Regions from separate parts of the Homo sapiens genome. Here all the other regions are linked to region 3. The links come from fine-mapping of genetic effects on gene expression. A gene starts in region 3. Each other region holds a variant in brackets. All regions are shown on one strand. Distances are from middle to middle.

Region 1 (8,183 bases), 110 kb after region 3:
CTCAGGTGATAAAACAGGATTGGGGCAGCTGGAGAGACTGAATCACCTGATTCCCACCCTCTTCACAGTGTCCAAGAAAATGCCAGCTTCTCTGCCTTGAATGTTATCCTGAGGGCACAAGACTAGCTTATAGAGGACACTTGAGGTCACCTTGGCCCTTCCAGTGACTTAAATGGTGGCACAGTCTTGCTCACCATCTCTCTCCAGCAGGGTGATGCTCTCCAGTTCTTCTCCTCCTGTTCCACCCTCCTCAGAAGGTTGCTTTCTGAATGCAGAGAACAGGAGACAGAGGATGCAGGTTCTTCCTTTCTCTCTCTGGTAATTCAGGGAATCAGATGACTGTGATATGGGGGCTCCTGGGGGAACACTGCCGCCGGCTTATGCCTTCTGCCCCAGAGGGCAGACGGTTGCTGGGATGTTTGTGAGGAGTTGGAGGCATGAGAATCCTTTCCCTCCTGCAGCTTGCTGCGTCCATCAGTATTTACGAAGTTGCTGCCTACTATGGTCAAGACATTTCTGCTTCATTTGGGCAGGGAAGTAAAGGACACAGCCCTACTCTACCATCTTTTCCTCTACTTTTAAGGAGGTTCGAACTGTAAAGGTGCCAGGGTCATGGCTGGGAACATCAGTGTTCTTAGGAAACTGGAATGTTGTGGCACCATGGGAGCAGACACAACTGGAAAAGAAACAGCAGCCAAGTGATAGGAAATTTTCCTCCAGAAGTCATCCTGTGACCGATATATTCACTTCAGAAATATTCGCCTCAGGATGGAACATACTCATGCCACACAGGCAGAACACTTCTGCTACCTAATTCATTCATTTATTCATCTCACAAATAGTTATTGATTGCCTCTGCTGTGCCCGGCACTCTTCTGTGTCCTGGGGGTGCAGAAATGAACAAAGCAGAAAAAACTCCCCTGCTCTTGTGGAACTTAAATTCTAGCACAGAGAAAAAAAAAGTATCAAACACTCATCACAAACAGGCTGAGATTTCTTTCATAACGTTTTATTCCTATAGATTGCAACATCCCCCAAGGAGGCCCTCGCTCCTGGTTCACTTCTGGATGCCTTGACATATGGAAGCTCCTTAACTATCTTCCACGAGATGTTATCCTGACAAAACAAATAAGAAAGCAAACAAACACACTGAACTGGAGGTCAGGAGATCTTAACTTTTAGCTAGTTCTGCTGTTCGACTGTGGGTAATTTAACTCAGTTCTCCTAGCATACAATACTGTGTGTTGACAAGAAAATGTTTAACAGCCTTCCTAACTTTAAAGTACTATGATTCTCATCTGAGGCATCATTCTCCTTGCTTTGAATTGTTTCTTCCATACTAACACTTGAATTTTTTCTTGAGTAGACAGTTTCCTTATTGAGCCGTGTCTGTGCTGCTTACCAGCATTTTGGTAGTGCCTTCTGTGTGCCTAGCACACAACCATAATAGCTAATATTTATCACGGGATTACCCTGTAGCAGGCACTGTGTGAAGTCCTTTACAGGAATTCTTTTAATTCATTCTCACAATACCTGTCAGGTAGGTCTTCTTTCTATCTCCATGTCACACATAAGGGCTTAGACAATTTAAGTAATTTTTCAAGGTCGATCACAGAACCAGTAAGAGATAGAGTCAAGGCTCAAACTCAGTTCTGGCTGACTCCAGAGCCTAGGATCTTATATCCACTATACCACCAAAAAGTGTGTGTTTAGTAAATATTTATTGGATGGATGGATGGATGGATGAATTCAGGGTTGACACTTAGCCAGTGTTCACTGGTGTGGCCGTAGCATTGGTTTATGGCTGGAATCTATTCTAATTGCTGTTCTGTCTGTTCTATCTGTTGTTGAATGGCTTGCATATCACCCTTCGAAGGATGGATGGGTCCCCACGTAGACAGCTATAAAATATAGAACTGCAGCACATTCCCGGAAACCTTTCCATTTCATCAGTAGTTAGACTATGGATTCAGATTATGGTAATGATTTTGCCTGAATGCCTACTCTATGGCAGTCTAACTTTATATACCTCTCCTTGGTAGTCTGCATGAGACCTATTGTGACACCATTGGTTCTGACATCTGTATTGAATCCTCTGGAAGTGGAGGTTCCCAGGCTCTTGCTGTTTGCCCTCAGCTGGGACTTTCCAAATGAGGCTGAGCTTCTGTCCTCCCGCTCCCGTTTCAGGGTTCTGCTGCTTGTCATCCTGTTTGAGAGGAGCATATAGCCCCTACGATGACTGAAGCTGTGCCACACACTTAAAGATGCATCCCAGCTGAGTTTCCAAACCTAAAAGAAAATAAATATTCTAACCAGGGAATTGGGTTATTGCTGTTTTAATCTGGGATTCCAGACAATTCCCAGTGGAATGCTCATGGAAAGTACGGGGAAGAATCTCAAAGCCAAGACAACAGCGGGACATTTATGGTATTGCTAAGTCCAAGGCACTTGTAGCTGCTTATTTTAAAGAGATACTCATCAGATTGGTATGCCTCAAAGTGGGTTCTTTTCACCATTTTCCATTGATTACCAGATAAATCCTCTCCCTTAATTCTTCCTTTCTCTTCTTTCATTCTTAAATCAACTTATATTCTTGTGGATGGGGGTAAAGAGGAGCAGAGATCATATTATTTAAGGTTCTCATACAGAGAGTTTCTCACCATTTTATTCTGCAAACACAGAGCTATACCCAAACTGAAGACACAGCATGACAAATTAGCAAGTTATTGAGAAGTAGAGAGTGATGCCTTTTCCTTTTATTTGCCAGTGATAAAAGCAAAGTGATAAATGGAGTAAAGTGTTAAGTGCTGATTAGAGAGGACTTGAAAAGGACTGGCAAAGAAGCCTGGGCAGAGTGCAAGAGGAGAGCCCAGGGAAGAAAGGCCAGACCGTGCCATCCTGCTCTGACTCACTGCCCAGATTACCAGGACAGTGCCCTTCAACAGTCCTACAGCAGAACCCCTCTGCTTACCGGGAGAGCAAACACAAGTATGTTTGTTGAGAGGATAGAAAGGGCATCATTTTTTCTTCTTCTTCCTCTTCTTCCATAAAGGGTACTGAATTTTTTTTGAAGCTTGAGGGTAGAAGAGCCGAAGTACAATTACAGTAGACAGGTGGGAAAAAAAAAGTTGCATTCTTTAAAGGAACATAAGCTTTTCATTGTAGCTTGAAAACACTTGAAAGACCAAGGACCCCCAAGGGTGCCCAGGCAAGGTCACTCTTGACTCTACGCAGAGAAGGGCTGTTGCTGGGAGCAAAGGATACCTTTGCCCAGTTCTCACCAGGGGACTTGTAGTCTCGCAAGGGAGGGATGTTTTCTGATTTGTCTACCCAAAGGCCGCCCTTTTTCTAAACTCATGGGGGAGTGGCTGCTGAAGGGGGCAGTTACAGCACCTCACGAGGTGCTGCCAGCCTGCTCATTGGCAGAGGCTTACCTTATGAAACACTGGGCCTCAGACAGTGATGCTCAGGCCCCGCCTTAGGATAACAATATAAGTATAGTTCAGATTGATGGGGCAGAATTTAAATAATTAAATGTCGTTATTTTAAATTTCTTTTAAACATGATCATTTCACATTTAGTTGACATTGCGCCATTTGCCCGCAGACTGTGCATTTTGCAGTGTCCATTTGGCCTTCTAAAATCCCTGTGAATTATATTTAAAAATCGGAACGTAGGACTCATTCATCATATTTAATAGGGTTAGGGTTTATGATGTTGCAGGTTAATAAATAGCCATAATAGCCGCTCGGCGTTTTCTGGAGTCAGAACACCAGAAATAGTCCCTTGGCTCTCTTTCCTTTCCTTGTGAATCTTTCAAAATTCTTACATTACTACTCCTGCTTGTGTGTGTTTAATAATTTAATTTAATGCCTTCCTTTGGAAACATTACCTCGCTGCTCACCCACTCGGCTGTTTTGCCTTCTCAGCAGAGTAACTGAGTTTAAGACAGCCACGTGACAGGCACAGCTATATTAGAACCAGCATAGTGAGAAGGGATGCAGTGCCTCTCTTTTCTAATTGGGTAGAGCAACAATTTTATATGCTTTCACATTATGTTTGTTCCCAAAAAAAAAGAGGCAAAATTGGGAGCTGAA[C/T]GTGATCATCATTATTATTTTATATTTTTATACATAACAAGATGCGCTCATACTTATTGTCTCACTTAATTGTACAGCAGTCCTTGAAGCAGGTGCTATTGATTCTGTTTGATGAGCTGACCGTGTCTCCGATAGGTCAACTGGATTGTCCAGGTTCACACAGCATGTGAAAGGCCGAATGTGATTTCTACTTCTTGAAACCACCTTTCAGCTTTTTTAGGAGAAAACATAATGACATAAAGAGTTTCATGGACTTGAAAGTAGAGGCACTGCTGACCGCTGAAGTCTGGGCAGCCACAGGTGCAGGGACTGGGACCGGTGTGGTTCTAGTGATGCCACCTGATCATGAAGTTGTGCTGAATCCTCAGCAGACTGGCTTCTCCCTCGTAGTAGGATGAGGGAGAGGAATCAGGATAACAGCCTGTCCCTGTGGATGGTTTATTCTGGTTTTGTTCACCAGTCCTGCTGCCTCCCCGTTTGTTCTCTTGCGAGCTCAGGTTAGAGTTGAATTTCTCCCTACAACCAGAATGCCAGGGCTGGTCCTGTAGGCCCTGATGGGCCAGCTCTGAGAGTGGGCTCAATCCAGTACCCAATTCCCCAGCATTTTGCTAGGGGTGCCCTTCTAGGAGCAGGGTCTCACTGCTTTTGGAAGTCTCCAAATAAAAAACCATGGTAATAGAAAGGGCTTGGGTCTGGATAGACGTGAATGGACTTGAATTTCAGGGTTGGCTCTATTAGAGAGATGATTTAACCTCTCTAAGACTCAAGTTTCTAACGACACCTACTAATGAGGGCTTCTTAGAAGTATCAGAGCTCATTTATGTATAGCACCTGGCATAGTGCCTGGCCTGCAGTGGCCAGGTAGCTCACCAAAGCTCCATTTCTGTTTCCGGTTATGGTGAATAGCCTGTTGAGGAGGTGGCTTCCCCATGCAGGAGCCAAGGGAAGCAGACATGTCGTTGTCTGTGTGTTTCATTAAAGAAAGGACCTAGGGTTCTGTCTGTGTATTATTGAGACTAATCTTCCTAAGTCACAATGGAAATAAGCTTTGCTTTCAAACGATCCCCTGTGATTTCCAGGGGCTCAGTTTTGCTCTAGGGCACTCCATCCCAGGACCTTTTCCTACCCACATGTCTCTCCCTCAGTCTGGAACTTTCTTCCCGTTCTCGCCTGAATCTGTGAATCTCCTTCAGCCTTCCCCACTCTTCTAATACCTATCAAGTCCTCCCCTGTCCTTTGCTATCACATCAGTGTTCCAAAAATGGCCTCTCCTCACAGCTGCCTGTGACGTGCAGTGATATCACCAGCAGAGTTGAGACAAGGACAAGGAGAAGAGATTTAATTCTCTGTCAGTGTCTTACAAAGCAGTAATGACTTCTAACAAAGCCGACCAGCCACTAGCATTTTCTACTTTGTTCCCCCTTAAGCCTTCTTTTGGGTGCCTTCACTTTTTACATCCAAATGCTTGAAGCTTTCTACTTTCCCCGCGGCACATGTGGCTGTACGAGGGCCCTGGTTAGCTGCTTCAAACAGCTTGAAGAGCAAAAACAGCCCACAGCAGAACAGCCAGGATGCTTTGGAAGGGAAATTTCCTTTTTGGGTTTGCTGTCTGAAAGAATTTCCGATGCAGGCAGACGTTAATTCCTAGCTCCATGCTTCCTGATAAGGAAGCAGCTTCAATAAATGCAGCTATTTATAGATGTCTTTTTTTTTTTAAGAAAAAAAATATATAACCAGAGGTTTACTGACCTTTTCTTTCACTTCACATTTCATGCAGTGAGCTCTGTGTACATTTAAGGCAGTTCCTCCAGCGTCAGCTCTGACAAAGTGGCCCTGGTTTCGCTGTGGGGGATGGGGAGGGGAGGATGAAGATGGCACGGCCCCTCATTAGTGTCACGGGCTCTCCCTTTCCTCAGAGTTCTGAAGTAGACATTTGGAAACTGTTGACAATGGGTTGTCCCTACCTGGTGCTCTGTGTTATTTATGTGAGCCCAGAGGTGCCCAGCTTTATTCTAGACTCAACACTGAAAGGTTATAGCAGACTAAGAGAACCCTTTAAAAAATAAAAGACGATGAGAACCAGTCCATTTTATGAAACTTGAACAGCAACAGGAAATCAGAAACTTTATTTCCATTTCTTCTTTTCTTCTGTCCGTTGCTTCCTCTTGGATTTTCCCAACCCTCAATACGTCTGTGGTCTTTCTCTCGTCTTGATGGGTTTCCGCAGATTGAGGAGTTCCTGTCCATGAGCTCCACAGTCACCCTTACATGTATCTACCTAATGCTTTCTGGCAGGTGTGATAAAGGTTCAGTGTGTTGGCTTGAATGTGCTTCTCTAAGTTACTTCTCACCTCCTCTGATTATCAGAAAGCATTGGTTGAGCTGAGTATATACAAATACAGCAGTTTCCATGCTCAAATAACTGATATTTTCTCCCATTTTGCTTCATGTGTGAGTTACACCACATTAGTAATTCAAACTTTTGGGGTTTCTGGCAGGATGACCTTGACAACTTCATCAGAGGTAAACGTTAGCAGCGACGTTTAGATGTTGCTGCTTTTGCTGTTGCCATGGGTGGATTCTGATTCTCAGTTGCCTGTACCATGTGTGAGTGTTTTGTGGTTCATTTTTCTGATCTCTTCTGAAGGAGGGGTAGAGCAGGACTTGAGAGATTTAAACTGGCCCTGGCTCTGGCCACATGCTGACTGTAAATTCCCAAGTATAATTAGTCACACTGCCCCAATATTTACTGCCTCCATCTTGGGTGTGTGGACAAAACCCCATTCTTTCAACATTGGTCTCCATTTCTGCTTCCAGCAGATCATGGATACCAGTAGCTCTCAAATGGGGCTGTAAGATTCCAGTAATAGAAATGCAGATGATGGGTACGGATAATGGATAAAGAACTGTAGATGTGGGGTGGATGACGATTGGATACCTAGAAGGGAAAGTTGACTGCACAGGGCTACGCAGTGAATACCCTATTTTACCAGGTCAGCTGAGGCTAAATTCTCTACTTCTGGGGTGGGGGTACTAACTGAAATGGTTCACTGAGGAGGGTGAAGGTTTGTAAGGGAAGATGTAACAATACTTTTTTAAAAGCACCTAGGACAAGTTTTAGGGTGTTGAATAGCACCATTTAAAAATTATAGGGGTATCCAGCAATTTATGGAGCTCTGATTGAGAAGTATCATTGTTAGGATTTTATTACCCATTTGTTTTCCAGAAGTAGCTCATCTTTGCAAATGAGCTTTAGTTTTTTGGTCATTGTACCCTACCTGCCAGCTCACAGGAGCCTGTGTTTCTCCTTAGGAGCCACTCTGAGGTCAACCGTGTTTAAGATCATAAAGCCACTCTAGAGAATCTCTGTGGCATTGTTGTGTGGAAGAAGAAATAATGATCACTACTATTATTATATATATGTGTGTGTGTGTGTGTGTGTGTGTGTGTGTATATAAAAGTATATGTGTGTGTGTGTATATATGTATATATGTGTGTATATGTATATGCTTCATATATATTATCCTGAATAATAACAAACTCTGCACAGTAGATATTATACCTGAGGCTCAGGTAAACCACTTGCCCGAGGTCACCCAGAGAAAGTGGAGGAGCCCCAATTTGAATCCGTATCTAATTCCAAAACCCAGACTTTTATTTTCCACTTCACCCTATTACTCTTTAAAAGTCTGAGGAGCAAATGAAAGTTGTTTCATTCTATCTATTGGTTAGAAGGAGAATATCCAAGCTAACAGGCTGATTTTTTTTTCCAATTTTTAAGCATAATATAAATTACTGACAAGAGGGCCCAGATGGATAAAATCAGAGCTATAAACCAAATTATCTTTTGAACTTGAAGGAAGATAAATTTCCATATCCAATCCTGTATGCACACTGTTATCTGCCAGATAGTCTCAGGTATGTGTGTAAATTCTGGAGTGTTAGAAACAAAACTAAATGAAGTAAAAAGAGGTTCCTTGTCTATTATTTTCCATCTTTTTTAAAGAGATGATCTACCTCACAGATGGTTATTAAACAGTAAGAAAGATGCTGTGATTGAATGAAGATTGTGTTACTGAGTTTACA
Region 2 (8,183 bases), 180 kb after region 3:
CTGCAAAGAGCCATTCTCAAATTAGGTCTTATTCACAGGTTCTGGGGATTAGGACACGGACATTTCTATTTGGCAGCCAACATTCAGCCATCTCCAGTCACTGAGCTAGTAAGTGACAAAAACAGGATTTGAATTTCGTTGTTTCATTTTATTATAACGTGGTTAAGAGAGATTTTAAATATTTCCATTAAGTTAGCAATTCTTGCCAACAACAGTAGAAAGCATGCCTTTTTTTTTTTTTTTTTTTTTAAAGTCAGAGCCTCATTCTGTCACCCAGGCTGGAGTGCAGTGGTATAATCATAGCTCACTGCAGCCACTCCTAGGCTGAAGCAATTCTCCCACCTCAACCTTCTGAGTAGCTGGGACTTCAGGCATGCACTACCACACCTGGCTAATTTATTTTGTTTTTCAAGGAGATGGGGCTCTTGCTATGTTGCCCAGGCTGGTCTCGAACTCCTGGCCTCAAGCAGTCCTCTCACATTGGCTTCCCAAAGTGCTGAGATTACAAGTGTGAGCCACAGGACCTGGCCAACAGCATGCTTTTACAAATAGTAGGGTAGCAGGAGGCCAGCCTGCAGACCGCCCAGAGACCTCACCCCATCTTACGCTCTGCCCAACCTCAGGGGAGCATTTTTGCACTTGGTGGATTAGCATTACTTGCTCCATCCATGATGAGCCACTCATGCTCTTCACAGATTTTCCAGACTCCCATGTCAAAGTTAAAAAACAGACATCGGCCTCTTTCCAGAACTCAGAATATTCACATCTATATTGTTAACACTCATACCTTTTCCAGCACAGAATGAAAAGCACCTTTGAAGAATCGTAAGCCATGAATGATGACGGGCCGAAGGGAGTGAGGGCTCCTACCTCTTGTCACTCCTACCATCCTGCCTCCAGGACCCCTGCCACCTACTTGGGAGTCTGCCCTTAAAACTCAAGGGTCACCTGACTCATTCCTCCCCACTCATTCATCTGACTACCCACCAAAGCTAAGTGTGAACAGCCTGTATTGATTTATCATTTTCCTTTTGCCTGCTTCCTCTGGTACAGAGATCTTCATGCTTTCATCCAAACGAATGAATAATGTAAAATCCCAGGTGGGGTGACAGAGCCAAGGAGAAAAGTGTTCTGCAGCAAGGGAGGGCCTCCCAGTATGAGCCTTGGAGTCTCAGATAAGCCCAGGGACAAAGCATGAGACATCCAGTTACATATCTGTGGCCCTGGAAGGGGAGACGGGGTTCGCTTTGTGGTGGTGTTTAGCTTTCCTGACTCCAAGTGACCATCTTAAGCCAGGGGATTAGTAACCTTTACAACTCTAATACTAGGGAATATATTAATAACTGGTGAGAAAAAAGATTACAGCTTTTTTATTGATAGGTCTATAAAAGCCATTTCCGTATGAATGTCCTCAGAAAGGAGGAATAAGGGGATGAGATAGAATAGAATAGAGAGAAGTCTGTCTCACACACACACACACACACACACACACACACACACACACACAAATGCAACACAATTATCTTTAAATAGAAGTTGCTTCTCCAAGTTTGTTTTTTTTTGTTTGTTTGTTTCATGAGGCGTCAGCAACGCTGTTAAAATGATTTCATCCTGCCTGTGTGTCACAGCAGTCTGCCCCGCGAAATGCTGAATCAGCAGCAGCCCAGACAGCCTTTCGGTGGAGGGTAGATTCGACACCCAAAGGCAACCAACCGGGCCTTTGAAAGCACTTGGAAGCACTCTCCAAAGAGCCAGGGAAGAGGACAAGGAAGAAGGGGGTGCAGTGGAATTCTCCTTAAAAAACAGCATGTTCTAGAAAAGCCATGCTTTGGAGGTGCTGTAGGTCAGATTTGCCTTTGGGTCCCTATGTGTATTTTCTGAGGTCTGTTCATGTAAAAGTTCAACACCTCTTTCGCACTCCCTTCTCCCAGCCCCCGCGCCCTGCCCCCACACCTCCTGTCCACCTCCACCTCCTCCTCCTGGAATTCAGTGATTATCAGGACTGTCTCCATCCTGAGAAGAGGCTTTTTAAAATTTCGCAGGAGAATAGAGACACCCGAGAGGGCTGGGAACAGGCACAGCTGAGCCACACAAAGCCAAGCCTCCTCCATGCAAGTGACGGACAGATCAGGTCCCAGTTCAGAATGAGAATGAGTTTTACTCTGGTTACACTTTGCACAGGAATGTTCTGCAGACTGTGCCGGGCACCAGAGATGGTCCGTGTGCGGTTTAAAAGAGCAGGAGGGGAAAGAATTTTCATCCCTCTTTATTCAGGCACCCTCAGGAGAGTATCCATGTTCTGTGAATCATGCAAATCCTGCAGGATCTTTATGTTCTCTGTACCCCATCCATTTCTGCTGAGGATTACAAACATTCTTGCACCAACTTTCCTCCAGCAGTTTCGATTTCTCAATAAATCTGTTTGAGGAACATTTCAACTCTTAATATCTATTTTCCTACTTTTTTTTTCTTCTTAAACTCAGGCTTCTTTGTAAGCATACATATCAGTAAGTTTGATAATAAAAATGACCTTTCTGCCCTGCAGTATAGGAAATGCTGCCTTAATGCCTCTTTGCTTTAGAAACTCATCCTTGTATAGTATCTCTCCTTGCATAGCCAAGTTGCCTCATTGTACGTAAATTAAGGTTATTTGCAGTGATTGACCCTAACTACTATGAAGAAAAACTTTCAATATGTTAGCAATGATGTCTATAATAACTGAAGAAGGGACATTCCCTATTTAAGGTCAGGACTGTGCGTTTCAAATAAAGAAATGACAGCTCAAACATTTCATTGTACCCCCACTTCTAAGTGAGAAGAGGGCACCCTTCGTGTCTCTCTTTTCTGTTTTTCTCCCTGAAATATCAGGAGAGACATATATCTCTCTTAAACCTGATTTGGTTTTCGCATTACCTCACAGGTACATATTGTCAGAACTATTTGCATACACGAGACTAAAAAAAATACTAAACGGATTCTCCAGGGATCCATGGATAAACTTGAGGTAGTCTATAAGCTTTGAAATCACAAGCAAATATTTGTGTCCATGTGCCTGTGCATTTTGAAGGGGGGTTTGTTTATGAACTCTGGCTGAATTCTCAAAGAATCCTGTACCTTCTTCCTAACGCTGAGAAGTACTTGCTCTAATCTCTTCCCCACTCCCTTTTTGCTGTCCCCTCCCCATTATCTTTTTTCTTTTTGATATGGACTTTAATTAAAATGTTGATGCTTACGTCACCATACATTTTCTGCATTAATTTTGATTTTTAAAATATTGCGTTACATGACTTAATCTTGATTACTGAAACTTTTTAAAGGTACCCCTTAAATTTTGCTCCTGGGGCAAATGTCTTACTTGCCTCAGCCTAGCCTGGGGCCTGAGCGGGCACCTCCTTCAGCCTTCTTTCCTCCAACCTCTCCCTGATCCAGGCTGTTTTCCGCAACCCCACCTGAGCCATTTTCCCAGCCTGCAAGATGACAATTCAGTCCCCTCCTCAAAGCACTGTACTGGGCCTCATAGCTCCTGCCAGAGCCGTCATGCACCTTCCAAGAATGCTTGCTCCAGCTTCTGCAGCTCCAGGGAGCTGCTGAAAGTATTTTGGTCTTCTGGAGACACGGGACAAAGTACAACTCATCTACTATCCAGTCCTTGTCCTACCCAACCCCCCAAAATGCATTGAGCACTTGCTCTGTACCAGGCACTGTGCAACATCTCTATAGGGATCACCTCATTTCATGCTCACATTTGCCCTAAGAGGTAAGTACTATTCTGGACTCCATCTTACCGCTGGAGAAACAGATTCAGAC[G/A]CGTAACTAACCCAGCGCTAGTAAGTGGTGCAGCCGGTGTTTTAACCCAGGACAATTTGACTGCGAAACCCAAGGTCTGATCTAAAATGCTACATGGCTCTCACCACATTGGGCTTGCTACCCAGAAGCAAAAATGAGAAGAACTCTTCTAAGTCACGTTTGTGAGGCTGAGCGGCAAGCTCTGGGTCAGTTTTGCTGTCAACAGGTTTTCTGCTAAAAACCCGTTTGTAGCTAAAACTAGATAAAAGTCAGAAAAATCCACAAAATGAAGTTTATAAGAAAAAACATCATTCGAGGGAATTGACTGTGACTTTGGATCTGAACATGAACATAGAGTGTTCTTGTTCTTGGACTTTGGGCTGAAAGACATGAGTATAACCTTCCGACCTCCACTTGGAAACTTAGTGCTGAGATACAGGCTAACCTTGAGGACAGAAATAGGAAATGTTTTGGAACTTCCAATTCCCTAGTGACAGGATTTGTTTGCAGAAAGCAGCTTTGGTCAGATAGCACATTCAAGATTACAGGCAGACCCAGAGGAGTGAGATGTGGAGCTTGTCAGAATGCATCCAAGGCTGGCCTGGGGGTTTTGAGCAGATTTGCAGAGAGCAGGCCGGTGGGGAAGGGAAAGGAGGCAGAAAAGTCTCCGGAAAAGTGCCTCTGGGAAGCAGCTTGAAGGGCTCTGAGGACACTTGGTTTTCTTTTGAAGGGCAGAGTACACAGGGAAGAACTCTAAGTAAACCCTGCCCTCGGCAAGCAGAGGTCAGAAGGTGCTCTGTGGGCACCGAGCAGTATTCGGGATCTGCAGCTAGACCAGGCCTGCCATGAGAAGTTGAGTTTATGGTTTATTATTCCTCATTCCCTTAACATTTTTACAGTGCATTTTAGAGTGCAAGGGGCTTTTACATCCATTATTTCCTTTAACCCAGGGGAAGTTCACTGGGTAATACAGAAAGCCTGGAGCTGGAGTTTTGGTCTTAGGTTCATTGTGACCTTGGGAAAGTCCCTCGATTTCTGAACTTCAGTTTCTTCTGAAAATACAGTTGTGCCAGCTTTAGCTCCCTCGCAGAATAGATGATGGCATGACATGGATGCGGAAGCATCTGGTAATGTTTTGAACTGCACAGAGCTGAGTGTCCTGACCATCAAAGCCAGAGCTGGAGTAAGTGATCAGATGTGTCGGGGAGGAGAGGGGTGCCAATCACAGACTGCAGAGCTGGCTCAGATGTGGACTGCCTAGGAATGGAAATCTTTGGCTGTACAGTCTGGCATTAAACCTGGGGACTGTTATGTGCCAGGCACCGTGTGCAAATCACTGCAAAATCCCCTTCAGCTACATGCATGGACATGTTAACTCTTAACACATGTACCTAACAATTCACAATTTCATCTCCCAGAAGGTGGAAGATGCATTGAGGAGCATTGCTAATTTGCACTCAAATCTGACAAATGAGGAATTGTCTGGAAAAGTAGAAATGATAGCAGAGGGTGAGAATAAAAACATGATTTTAGGATTGGGGAAGGGAAATGAGAGACAAGAACAGATGTGTTTTCTTGACTTAAGACAAATTTTTAAAATGTAGGGAAAAGTATTTATGATCTCATGATCTGAATGCTGAGACACAACTCAGAGTCATTTGGGCTGCTCTTGAAAATGAAATCCTGACTTATCAACTGCATATGACCCTTATTGGAATAAGAAGGAAGGGAGACAACTAAAGAAACTGATGAGGCGATATTGGGGATATTCTCTGATTAGCTCAATTTTTAAATAGTTTGTGTGTGTGTGTGTCTGTGTCTGTGTGTGTCTGTGTGTGTGTTTGTTTGTTTTGAAATAGAGTCTCACTCTGTTGCCCAGGCTGGAGTGCAGTGGTGCAATCTCGGCTCACTGCAAACTCCACCTCTTGGGTTCAAGCAATTCTCTTGCCTCAGCTTCCCAAGTAGCTGGGATTACAGGCGCCTGCCACCATGCCCAGCTAATTTTTGTATTTCAGTAGAGACAGTGTTTCACCGTGTTGGCCAGGCTGGTCTCAAACTCCTGACCTCAAGCAATCCACCGGCCTTGGCCTCCCAAAGTGCTGGGATTACAGGTGTGAGCCACCACACCCAGCCCTTAAATAGTTTTTTAAATATAAAAGTAAAACATGCTTAATAGAGAATGAGAAATAAGAAAGAAAAAAGGAAAAGGAGACAGGGAATATCACCTACAATTTTACTGAGTGTCAATTCTTTGAATATTTTTACGTTTCATTGTATTTTTCTATGCATTGAGATTATTACATATGTACACATACTATTTTTCAATATGAATACATACTCTTCATCATGTTACTGGCTGCATTAATTTTCTATCATAGATATTGTCAGTAACTATTACTTATTTCCTTATTGCTGTTCCTAGTTTTTCATTATTAAAAATAACACTGCAATAGACATCTTTGTGCATGAAAGATTCTTCCACATACTAAGTTATTTCTTTAAGGTAGATTCTGAGAAGTTAACATTTACAGGGTTCTTAAAATATCACTAAGTTGTTTGCCAGAGAGATGATGCCAATTTATCTTCTCACTGTTTTGTGAGTACCAGTCTAATGAGCTCCGATTTTTAAAAAGATGTATATAATGGATGAAAAAGCAACTTAATGAAAAGAAACATATAAAGGAGAGTTTCTGAGCTCTAGAATTTTAAAACGTAAGTGAGCTGAAAACCATGGAATACGCTTAAGAAAACAATAAATGTGGGCAGCAGGATAAGAATAAGCATGATGTCAGCCTGCTGATGGGGTTGGATGGGGTAACATCAGCAAATGGCAAAGAAACCAAAACTGTTCAACTTCTTTCTCTCTCCCATGAAGGAGAATGATTGTCAGACTGAAACAGGTAGTGCAAACATTGACAGAAGGGAATTGAAGCCTGAGATGGGTGAATTGATTGTAAAAGCAAACTAAGTTCTGAATAAATGCAAGGCTCTTGGCCCGGACAAATGACATCCCAGGGTCGAGAACTCAGAGGGGTGAAAGATAAGCCACTGGCAGTGATCCTTCAGGGTTGTGGGAAATGGAAGCTGTACTAAAAGAATAGGAACTGTTGGTAACCTGATTTTAGGAAGAGAAGCTGGGGAAAATGTGGGTACGAAATAAAACAGCTAACCTGATGGAACTTCCAGATAAAATTCAGGACAGATTTTCAAACATACATGTTACGAGTGGAAGACATTATCACTTTGGAGCCAGCCATCTGCTCCTCATCCTCTCTCCTCATCTTCTTTAATAAGGTTGCTCTAAGTGTTGTAGTTGCTGTATTTCAGGATATCAGGAAGGCGTTTCGTTGAATTTCTGATGTTGCTTTCATGGATGAGCTTGGAAAATGTCCAAAAACCAGAGTATTTAGATGGATTGATCATTGAACAACTCTTCCCAAAAGGAGTCAATAACTTGATCAGTATCCGTCCAAAAGGAGGTGACTGGTGTGTCACCAGGGTACTCCCATCTCAGCCCTATACGATCTGCACTTTGTCAGTAACCTGTGGAGGTGACAGATGCTTAGCAAAGCCACAGATGACGTGAAATTACAGAGTATAGATGCTAGAAATCGATGGAAATCTGGAGAAGACTGCAGCAGGCTGGGATGATGGTTAAAAATAATAAGATAAAATGTAATATCAATTAATATACATTCTTACAGTTGGGTTCCAAGTGCTAGCTATATATGTTCAGGTAGGGTGAGATTATAAAGGTGATTATAACAATAACAGTACAAAAGCAATAGCTAATGTTTTTTAAGTGATTGCTCTATGCCAGATATTGGCCTGTGTGTTTCATATCATCATCATGTGTATAATTTTACTCTACACTAGTTTTATGTCATCTGAAAATTGTATAAGTACATTATCTATGATTCAATGATATTTAATTCACAGGATGAAAGTTGTCCTCATTTTTCAGTTGACACCAGCAAGACACAGAGAGGTTAAGTAACTTGTACAAGGTCACACAGCTGGGAAATAGAGGTTCCATGCTTGTGCTCAGTGCCTGCATGCTGAACTACCGTGAAACTTTTTCTTTTTAAAATTTAGTCATAAATTTAATTTGATATCCTGCCAAAACACCAAATAAGCTTAGAGAGTTAGGTAGTTTTTAACGTGGGCTCGGAGCCAGGTCACCTGGATTCAAATGTCAGCTCTTCCATTTCCTGGCTGAGTGACTTTGGGCAAGTCGTTTAACTTCCCTGTGTTCTAGTTTTCTCCTCCATAAATGGGGATCATTCCTGTCTTACAGGATTGCTGCAGGGATTAAATGAGTTACATATGCAAAGCATTTAGAATGACTCCTGGCACATAGCAATCACTTGCTTACAAGTAAGTGCATTGCTGTTATT
Region 3 (8,183 bases):
GTGGTGGCTAGCACTGTAATCTCACTTTGAAAGCTAAGACAGGAGGATTGCTTGAGAACAGGAGTTCGAGACCAGCCTGAGCTGATCTCAAAAAAAAAAAAAAGGAAATACAAGGAAATAAAACAGAGTATTTGAGATACATGGAACAATAATATATGGTCTAATACTTGTATTAAGAATAAAAAAAGGAAACAGAATGGGTGTAAAAATATTCAAACAGATAATAAATGACAATTTTCTAAAACTAATGAAAGATACCAACCCACAGATCCAATAACTGCAGCTGACATCAAGGTGAATAAATGATAAATGCAAAGAAAACCACTCCTGTGTACATCATAGTCAAAATTCTGAAAACCTAATTTAAAGAGCAGATCTTAAAAGCAGCTACAGAAAAAAGTGTACACTGTACACAGGGGCACCAAAATATGTACTACAAGTGATTTTTTAGCAAAATATGAAGTCAGAAGAGGAATGACATGTTTAAAGTGCTGAAAGAAAAGAAAATGTCAACATAAAATTTTACGTACAGTAAAAATACCCTTCAAAAGTGAACATGAACTAAAGACATTTAGAGGCAGACAAAAGCTGAGAGACTTCTCCAACAAACAGCACACAGGCTATGCTGAGTGAAGTTCTTGAGGCCAAAGGGAAGATACCAGATGGAAAACCAGATCTGCAAAAAGGAATAAAAAAGTACTAGAAAGGATAAATATCTGGGCAAATTAAAAAGAGACATACTTTAATACATTCATTATATGCATATATTTACAAATTTCTAAATACCATAAAAATACAATGTAAAATGAATTTTATAACATATAGAAGTAAAATATAACACAACAATACAGAGGATGGGAGAGGGATAAATGGAATTACATTGTAACTTTTTTACAGATTCATAAAATAGAATAATATTATTTAAAGGTAGCCTGTGATAATAACATACGCAAATTGTAATTTCTAAAGCAACCACCATATTTAACATAAAGAAGAAAATCTAAAAAGACAATCTAGTAATTTAAATGGAATATGAAAGAAAAAAATCCAATTTACCCATAAGTTCTCAGAAAACAAGGAACAGAGAAACAAGCGACAAATGGAAATGAATGAATGAGAAAAACTTCCCTCAACCACTGTTATTGAACACTGAATGGCTCTGCAAATAAGCTTTTACTACAGACTCAATAATGTTTCTTTATGAATTTAACCTAAAACTACAAGGCAAAATAGAGCTTATATGCAAAACTTAAACTGCAGTAAAATCATTTTGACACAACTAACATTGTTTGAATCACAAATAATGTCAAGCTGTTTTACACACTTCTCATGCTGTCAAAAGTTAAAACAAGAAGCAAGATCTCCATTCCAACACAAATTTGCAGCAGTTATGTTTTTCTGAACTCAAACTACAGTACCAACAGTGTTTTCTGAATTTCAATGCAAGTGCAAAGGAAATTTTCATATTTAAAATTTACTTAACTGTGCAACTGAGAAGCTTCCATTTAACCTTCAACTGGAAGTGATTAATCTGCAATGTAATGGCATGCTAAAGGGGAAATATCAAGAGAATTTATAGAATTCTAATAGAATTTTAGAAATGCCTTCTAAGCAATGAATACACTCAAGTAAAATCATGTGCTCATGGGTTGGTATCAGTATTTGGCGGTATCTGTCTGGGTAGAAAGACATTTCAAAAATGAAGTACATAAAATCTCATAAAAAATCAGCATTAATAGATGAACATCTGCAGTCAATTTTTATGAAAGAACACTTTGAACACCAAGTGAAATGTTACTTTCCCCCCAAAAGAATTCCATGCCTTTCATTATTATACCTGTATTAAAATTGCTATTATTACACTTTGAATTGACAAAATAAAAAACTGTGGACTTTTTTTTCTTCGTGTTATATAAGTATCTACCTGACATTCTCAATTTTGTCTCTTGGCCCACAAAGACTAAGGCATTTACAGCTGGGCCCTTTACAGAGATTGGCAACCCCTGGTCTAAATGTAGTTTTTGCTACAGTTGTCAACTATGTTTTTTGCTTTGGAACCACAAACATTCTACTTCAAACTACTACTTCTATGAATCACTTGTAGACGTTGAGGAGGAGTTAGGAAGAAAAGTCGAGAACTAATTTAGTCCTGGGGTTAAATAATAATTGTAGCCAACTTGAATTGAGCACATATATTGTGCAGCTCTCTGCTAAGGAGGCATTTGTATATATTTTCTTATTTAATAAGATAATCTTATGAGCTAGGTACTATTTCTCCCCATTTTACAGAAGCTTAGTGACTGTGTTGTCAGGGATCACATTGCTAAGTGATGTGGAAGACATAACCTAGCAATGGGACATCTAAACCAATGTCTGCAACATCAATTAAGAAAAGCAAAAGAGGCCGGGCGCGGTGGCTCACGCCTGTAATCCCAGCAATTTGGGAGGCCGAAGTGGGTGGATCACGAGGTCAGGAGATTGAGACCACGGTGAAACCCCGTCTCTACTAAAAATACAAAAAAGATTAGCCGGGCGCGGTGGCGGGCACCTGTAGTCCCAGCTACTCGGGAGGCTGAAGCAGGAGAATGACGTGAACCCGGGAGGCGGAGCTTCCAGTGAGCCGATATCGTACCACTGCACTCCAGCCTGGGCGACATAGCAGACTCCGTCTTAAAAAAAAAAAAAAAAAAGCAAAAGAATACAGAAAATTGTTAAAGGGGAGAAGGGGGTGGTCAAAGGCAGAGGAGTCGGTGTGGACAAGACAGAGATCTCTTGGAGAGAGGGCAGGACTACCAGTTGACAAAACCTGTTCAGGTTCCTGGAGGCTCACAACCACCAGTTCCCATCATCCCAGCAACAGCACTCTTTCCCACCCTAGCCTCGTTCGTAATGATCTGATCAATGTGTGAACAAAAATATTGTGTGTACAAGTCTCAACACATTTGATAATGTGAAGAGGTGAAGGAAAGTGGGTAGGAAAAATCTGTAGGGTGGGGAGACTCGGGGAAATGTGTCCTGGTCCAGTGCAGGTAACATATATGGGTATATATGCGTATATACATATTTATACCATATTTAATATATTACTCTATTAAGAAATTATAACAAATTTCCTTTTACATTACACATCCACATATTAAACCCCCAATATGTGCTAACAAGGTTAGAATTTAAGTATAATGATAATGTTCTCAGTTTTTTGTGGTGGACACTTTAAGAGAGTGTAAATAATAATAAAAATAATAGAGTGATCAGATCACTTGTGCTCAGGGCTAGACCCTTCAGCCCCAACGGCCTTAACCCCCCTCAACTGCTTTTCCAACCAAATATTCCTCCCCCTGCAGGATCCCAGGGCCATCCAATCAACCGGCCAATGACGGTTTCAGAGAAGCGGTCCTGGGGAGGGGTATTATCTGCAGGAACACGTCCTGCCAACTTTGTAGTCGAGTCACCTATTTCGGTTGGTAGCGGCCGCTATTTCTTTAAAAGGGCAGTGGATTTCGAAACAGGAGGGGGAGGTCAGGAAAAGGAACTCAGCTGCCTTTGATAACTGCCCTGCAGCCTTCCCTTCCCGGAGCGCGTGCTCGGCTCGGGAAGCGCCCGCGGCCGCCGCATCCCCGAGCGGGCGCGTGGCGCCACCTCTTTCCGGGGCGCCCACCTTCCCCGGGAATCCCCCCGCCCGACGGTCCCCCAGCGTCTGCGGCGCGGCCGCCCCGGCTTTGTCTCCGGCGTCGCGCTCGGGCGCCCGCTCTCCCCACATTTCCCCGTGTGCAGGCTGTAACCCGATCTCCCATTTCCTGGTGGATTCTCTTAAAGAGGCAGCGGTCGAGAAGCAGAACAAAGGCTATTGTTTTATTTCCTCCTTCGGATTCCGCGTCCTAACCGGAATGGCCCTTCATAGATAATTACTTTCGTTGCATCTGCGCTTAGTGAAACGTTTCAAAACCCTTGTGCACATCGATGTATCCAAGAGACGGAGCCAGGGGAGGTGGGAGGAGTTTAATAAAACCTGTTTTGTGGTGTCTGGGGCCACAATGTAACGTTTTTTAAAGGTGTCTTCCTTAAGCCCGGAAATTGGCTCGGCCAGCGGGAGGTCTCGCGGCGTGGAGGGCGGGCGCCCGCACCGGGGGCCGGCCTGGGGGGCTGCGCCGCTCGCCCCGCTCGCAGCCGCGGCCCCACGCGGCCCCGCTACCCGGGTTTCCTCCGCCCGCGCCCCCGCGGCCGCCCCTCCCCCGCGCAGCTTTTATTTCCCCGATGCCGGGCTGTAACCCGAGCTTTTATTTCCTGGTGGCTCCTTTAAGAGGCAGAGCTCAGTGCTGGGAATTCACGTCAGTTTCTGCACTGAAACTCTCAAGATCAATGAGCAAAGAGCTTTCTCAGTTCTGCCTTTCAGTTTCTCTCTTCCAGGAAGGAAAACATTCGAGAGAGCGAGGGAGAGCCGCGGGAGGGCGGGGGGCGGGGGCGCCGGCTGCGGGTGGGAGGAGAGACCGGGAGGCCGGCCGGGCTGCGTCCCGGGTCCCCGCGCCGCGCCGCGACCTGCAGACCCCGCCGCCGCGCTCGGGCCCGTCTCCCACGCCCCCGCCGCCCCGCGCGCCCAACTCCGCCGGCCGCCCCGCCCCGCCCCGCGCGCTCCAGACCCCCGGGGCGGCTGCCGGGAGAGATGCTGGAAGAAACTTCTTAAATGACCGCGTCTGGCTGGCCGTGGAGCCTTTCTGGGTTGGGGAGAGGAAAGGAAAGTGGAAAAAACCTGAGAACTTCCTGATCTCTCTCGCTGTGAGACATGTCTGAGACTCCTGCTCAGTGTAGCATTAAGGTAAAAATCTTCTCCCCTCCTTCTACGTGGTGGAAACCCTGAGCTGCACCGGCCAGGGCAGTCGTGCTGGGCTCCTCAGAGCAGGCTGTTGCAGTTGCTCTGTTCGCAGGAAATTATTTGGGGCGAGAGGGAAAGAGATGCAGCTCGCGGTGGCTGCTGTACCCTTTAGCGTAACCTTGCTACTCCCCCCCACCGCCGAGCCCCTGCCGGCTCCTCGGCCCCCACCCCCTTGCTTTTTGACAATGAAATGCCGGTCACAATTGGTCAGAGCAACCCGGATTGTCTCCAGAACCGTAAAACACCCCCGTAATTAGTGCGCTTAAAAAAAAAAAAAACAAAAAACAAAAAAAAAAAACCTGCTCCCTATTCCTACACCCAACATGTGACTGAAATATAACTTTTGTTCCCGAGGGGTGGTCGTCTTAGAAAAAAAGTTGTTCAGTTTCCACTGCGATAGAATCTTTTTATTTTTTTAAAGGACTCTCTGGGTCTGATCAGACAGGATTTTTTTCCCCCTCGTCTGATTGTAATTGCAAGCGCTGTCGGAGAGACAGTCCTGGTGTCAGCTTTTCCTAGGCATTGCACAATGAATTTTTTTTTAAAACCAAGGTGAATAAAGTTGCTGAATAGTTATTTTACTCCGATCCATATGAAAGTTGAGCAATCCCAAAGTAGAAAACTCCTGTGATGGAGGGAGAGGAAGAACTAAGCAACCAGGCAAAATGACCTTCTGTGTTTGACAGTGCAGAGAGGCTATCTAAGCAGCACTCTGTAAATGCAGGGCGGTAGATGTTTGTAAACACACTGCTGGGCTACCCAGTAGTTGTGTGTATGCATGTCTATATATCTGTAAAGACTGTGGTGCTGCGGTTTGTTGCTTCTAAAAAGTTGTTGTAAAGTTTGCCACCATTGGGAGGCAGGATGATTTATCCATCTACCCGTGTTATTTTTCCCATCGCTGCATTTATTGTACACTTTATTCATTTCGCTGTTCCACCAGTACCCAGGTAGAAAGCCTTCCGCTCTTGTGAGAGGCTGAAGCTGCTGAAGTTTGTTTTTGGTTTGGCCTATTTAATGTGTGTTCACTGAATGGACACTACAGCAACAATGAACAAATAACCTGTTTTCTTCGTCTGTGGGGAGTTAGAAAAACCCTTCCTGGTTTAACACTGCCTTTCAATTAGAGTCTGTGTAGGGGAAACGCAGTAGTTCATCATACGTGCTTACTAGGTTTTTTATAATTAGAATCACATTTTGGTGTTTCTTATCAGAAAAGATATTCATGGGTTTGAGGATAGGCTAATGTGAAATCAAAAGGTGGTTTGGGCTTCTTTGTTTTTGCCTCACAAAAATGCCTAATGGAACTTTTAGGCTTTTGTGTTTGTACATAACTGGAGGTAGCAGTATGTATGTCTGTGGGCATGGGGCGTGCCACACTAAAGAACTTAGGGTACTTTGATATTAATACTTCAAAACCAGTTTCTTTTGCGGTATAAATTAGATTCTACACAGAGTTCAGGAAAATCCTGCGGTATAGATAATCTAATTTATTTGACGCTTCATAACATAGAGGTAACTAAATAGTAGGATATTCAATAAATAAATTGTATTTGGCTCAGTGGCAATAAACCCGACATCAGGAAAATCTGCCAACTACAGATCAGTAACTTTAGGGCAAAAACAACAAAAAACAATGCTTTCTGTGACGTTTCTTGATCCTCTTCTATACTGCATCCCCACCGTTTTGATGGGCTTATGGTGGTGTGCTGGCTGCAGACTGCTACTGAGTGGTTTGTTTCATTGTGCTCCAGTCGGAAAAAGAGTACAACAGTCCCTTGCCTTACTCACATACAGAACCAATCCCAAGCAAAACGCGTTCTTAAATGCAACATGAAAATTGTCTGTAATTTGCATATCATTTTTTTCCTTATTGCTTACAACTCAGTTCTTTCAGGGTGCCTCTTTTCATTACTGTGTACTTCTATGTAATTAAAATAGATTTAATGTTCTTTACCAGAAAGGAAAGAATCACTTTTATTTTGGATCGTTCTTTATGGAACGAGTATGTATTTGCTTAGACTGCATGTGTCTAGGTGAACGTATGTGAAGAGTATCTTTCCATGGAGTTTGTTTAATTCAGTGTTCCAATAATAAGCACTAGAGATCAAGGACTGGGATTATTCCAGGTCATCTGAAATGTTCTGGTGATGTGTGCTGCGTTTCATTTAGTCCTTGGGATGTGGTACGGTGACTGCATAATAAAAAATGTTTGCTGGTAACCCACAAGCAAGTTGCTTGCTTCTAGAGTCCAGTAAACAATATGCTTTTCTGTGTAGTGAAGAACGAATGTCAGAGGTTTTCAAGGATGAGCTGATGAACCTGATATACCGAACTCCTGTGACACAAAAGGCTCTCACTGTGGAGAGGTTTTTCCCAGTCCTCCTCTCCACTCCTGAAACCGTCCTCACTTGCTTTCATTCCTTACAAGTAGCGGGTCAGCAGGCAGACAGTTCCTCAGCGGCTGGTGAGATGCAGCCACAGAGGGAAGTACTTTGTTTATTTCTGAGCAGTGCCTGCTCTGCTAGAAAAGAGTAGTGTCCGATTTGGGTGGAGTTTCCAAGGTGAAAGTTTCTGAATTGGTCAATCAGTGACGCCTTTGTAAAGATGGCTCATGTGGTGGTCGCTCGCAATGAATGCCTGATAAGGGCTTTTCTGTTTCTTTTGCACTGTGTAAGTTTGCTCCCATCGCCTGGGGAAGTTAATATCAGACACACACTTTTTACGGTAGAAGAGAGGTTGACTACTCCAAGGGCACTGAAACTCTCACTGAGCCTTATTGTTTCTCTACACGCGACTTGCAGAAAGCAGGAGTGCTCGAGCACTCCTGGGGGGGTCTGTCCTACAACCCTTGAAGGTTGTGGCACTGTTGTCATGGAAGTTCAAATGCTTCAATTCCTGACCATTTGGGGTCGTTTAAATGGAAGGAAAGGATCAACTCTCTATAAAAAGTCAAATTGTTTTAAAGAGGATTGCCTGGCTGACTGTGCTGGTCACAGGAAGAAGGAAGAGGCTGTCTTTTCCATCATCAGCCTTCACCTTCAAGTCACCTCTTCAGTTCTAAGTTTGACCAAGTTGCAGCGGAAGGTGGTTGTGGCCTAGCAGACACGGTCCCTTGTCAGGCTTGGCACAGCTTGTTAGTGGGCCAGGACTAACCAGAATCCAAAAACGAGTCACACAGTGTCTCTAGTCCCCTCCTTCCCTGCTGTCCGTATCAGTCAGCTTTCATAGCAGAAGGAAATCTGGTTTTTAAAATTTTGCTACTAACTGGGAGACTCTTTCGAGCTCCCCTTCTGGACTCTGGGCTCCTTGG

What was found.
Region 1: its variant is fine-mapped to the expression of ETV6 in whole blood (TOPMed, PIP 0.97).
Region 2: its variant is fine-mapped to the expression of ETV6 in whole blood (TOPMed, PIP above 0.99).

What each region holds. Positions count from the first base shown.
Region 1 is chr12:11,753,361-11,761,543 of GRCh38, forward strand. The region is part of intron 2 of ETV6 (ETS variant transcription factor 6); the gene reads left to right. Among named protein-coding and RNA genes, the nearest start is that of ETV6, 110 kb to the left of the region's middle. RefSeq lists enhancers at 219-268, 5,266-5,315. The variant C/T (reference allele first, on the strand shown) is at 4,098.
Region 2 is chr12:11,825,606-11,833,788 of GRCh38, forward strand. The region is part of intron 2 of ETV6 (ETS variant transcription factor 6); the gene reads left to right. Among named protein-coding and RNA genes, the nearest start is that of ETV6, 180 kb to the left of the region's middle. RefSeq lists an enhancer at 4,678-4,877 and a silencer at 6,705-6,774. The variant G/A (reference allele first, on the strand shown) is at 3,808.
Region 3 is chr12:11,645,348-11,653,530 of GRCh38, forward strand. ETV6 (ETS variant transcription factor 6) reads left to right here and starts at 4,327. Exons shown (of 8, transcript NM_001987.5): 1 at 4,327-4,813. The coding sequence starts at 4,781. RefSeq lists enhancers at 3,230-3,329, 7,367-7,476, 7,807-7,856 and silencers at 3,510-3,749, 4,040-4,249, 4,460-4,509, 4,520-4,679.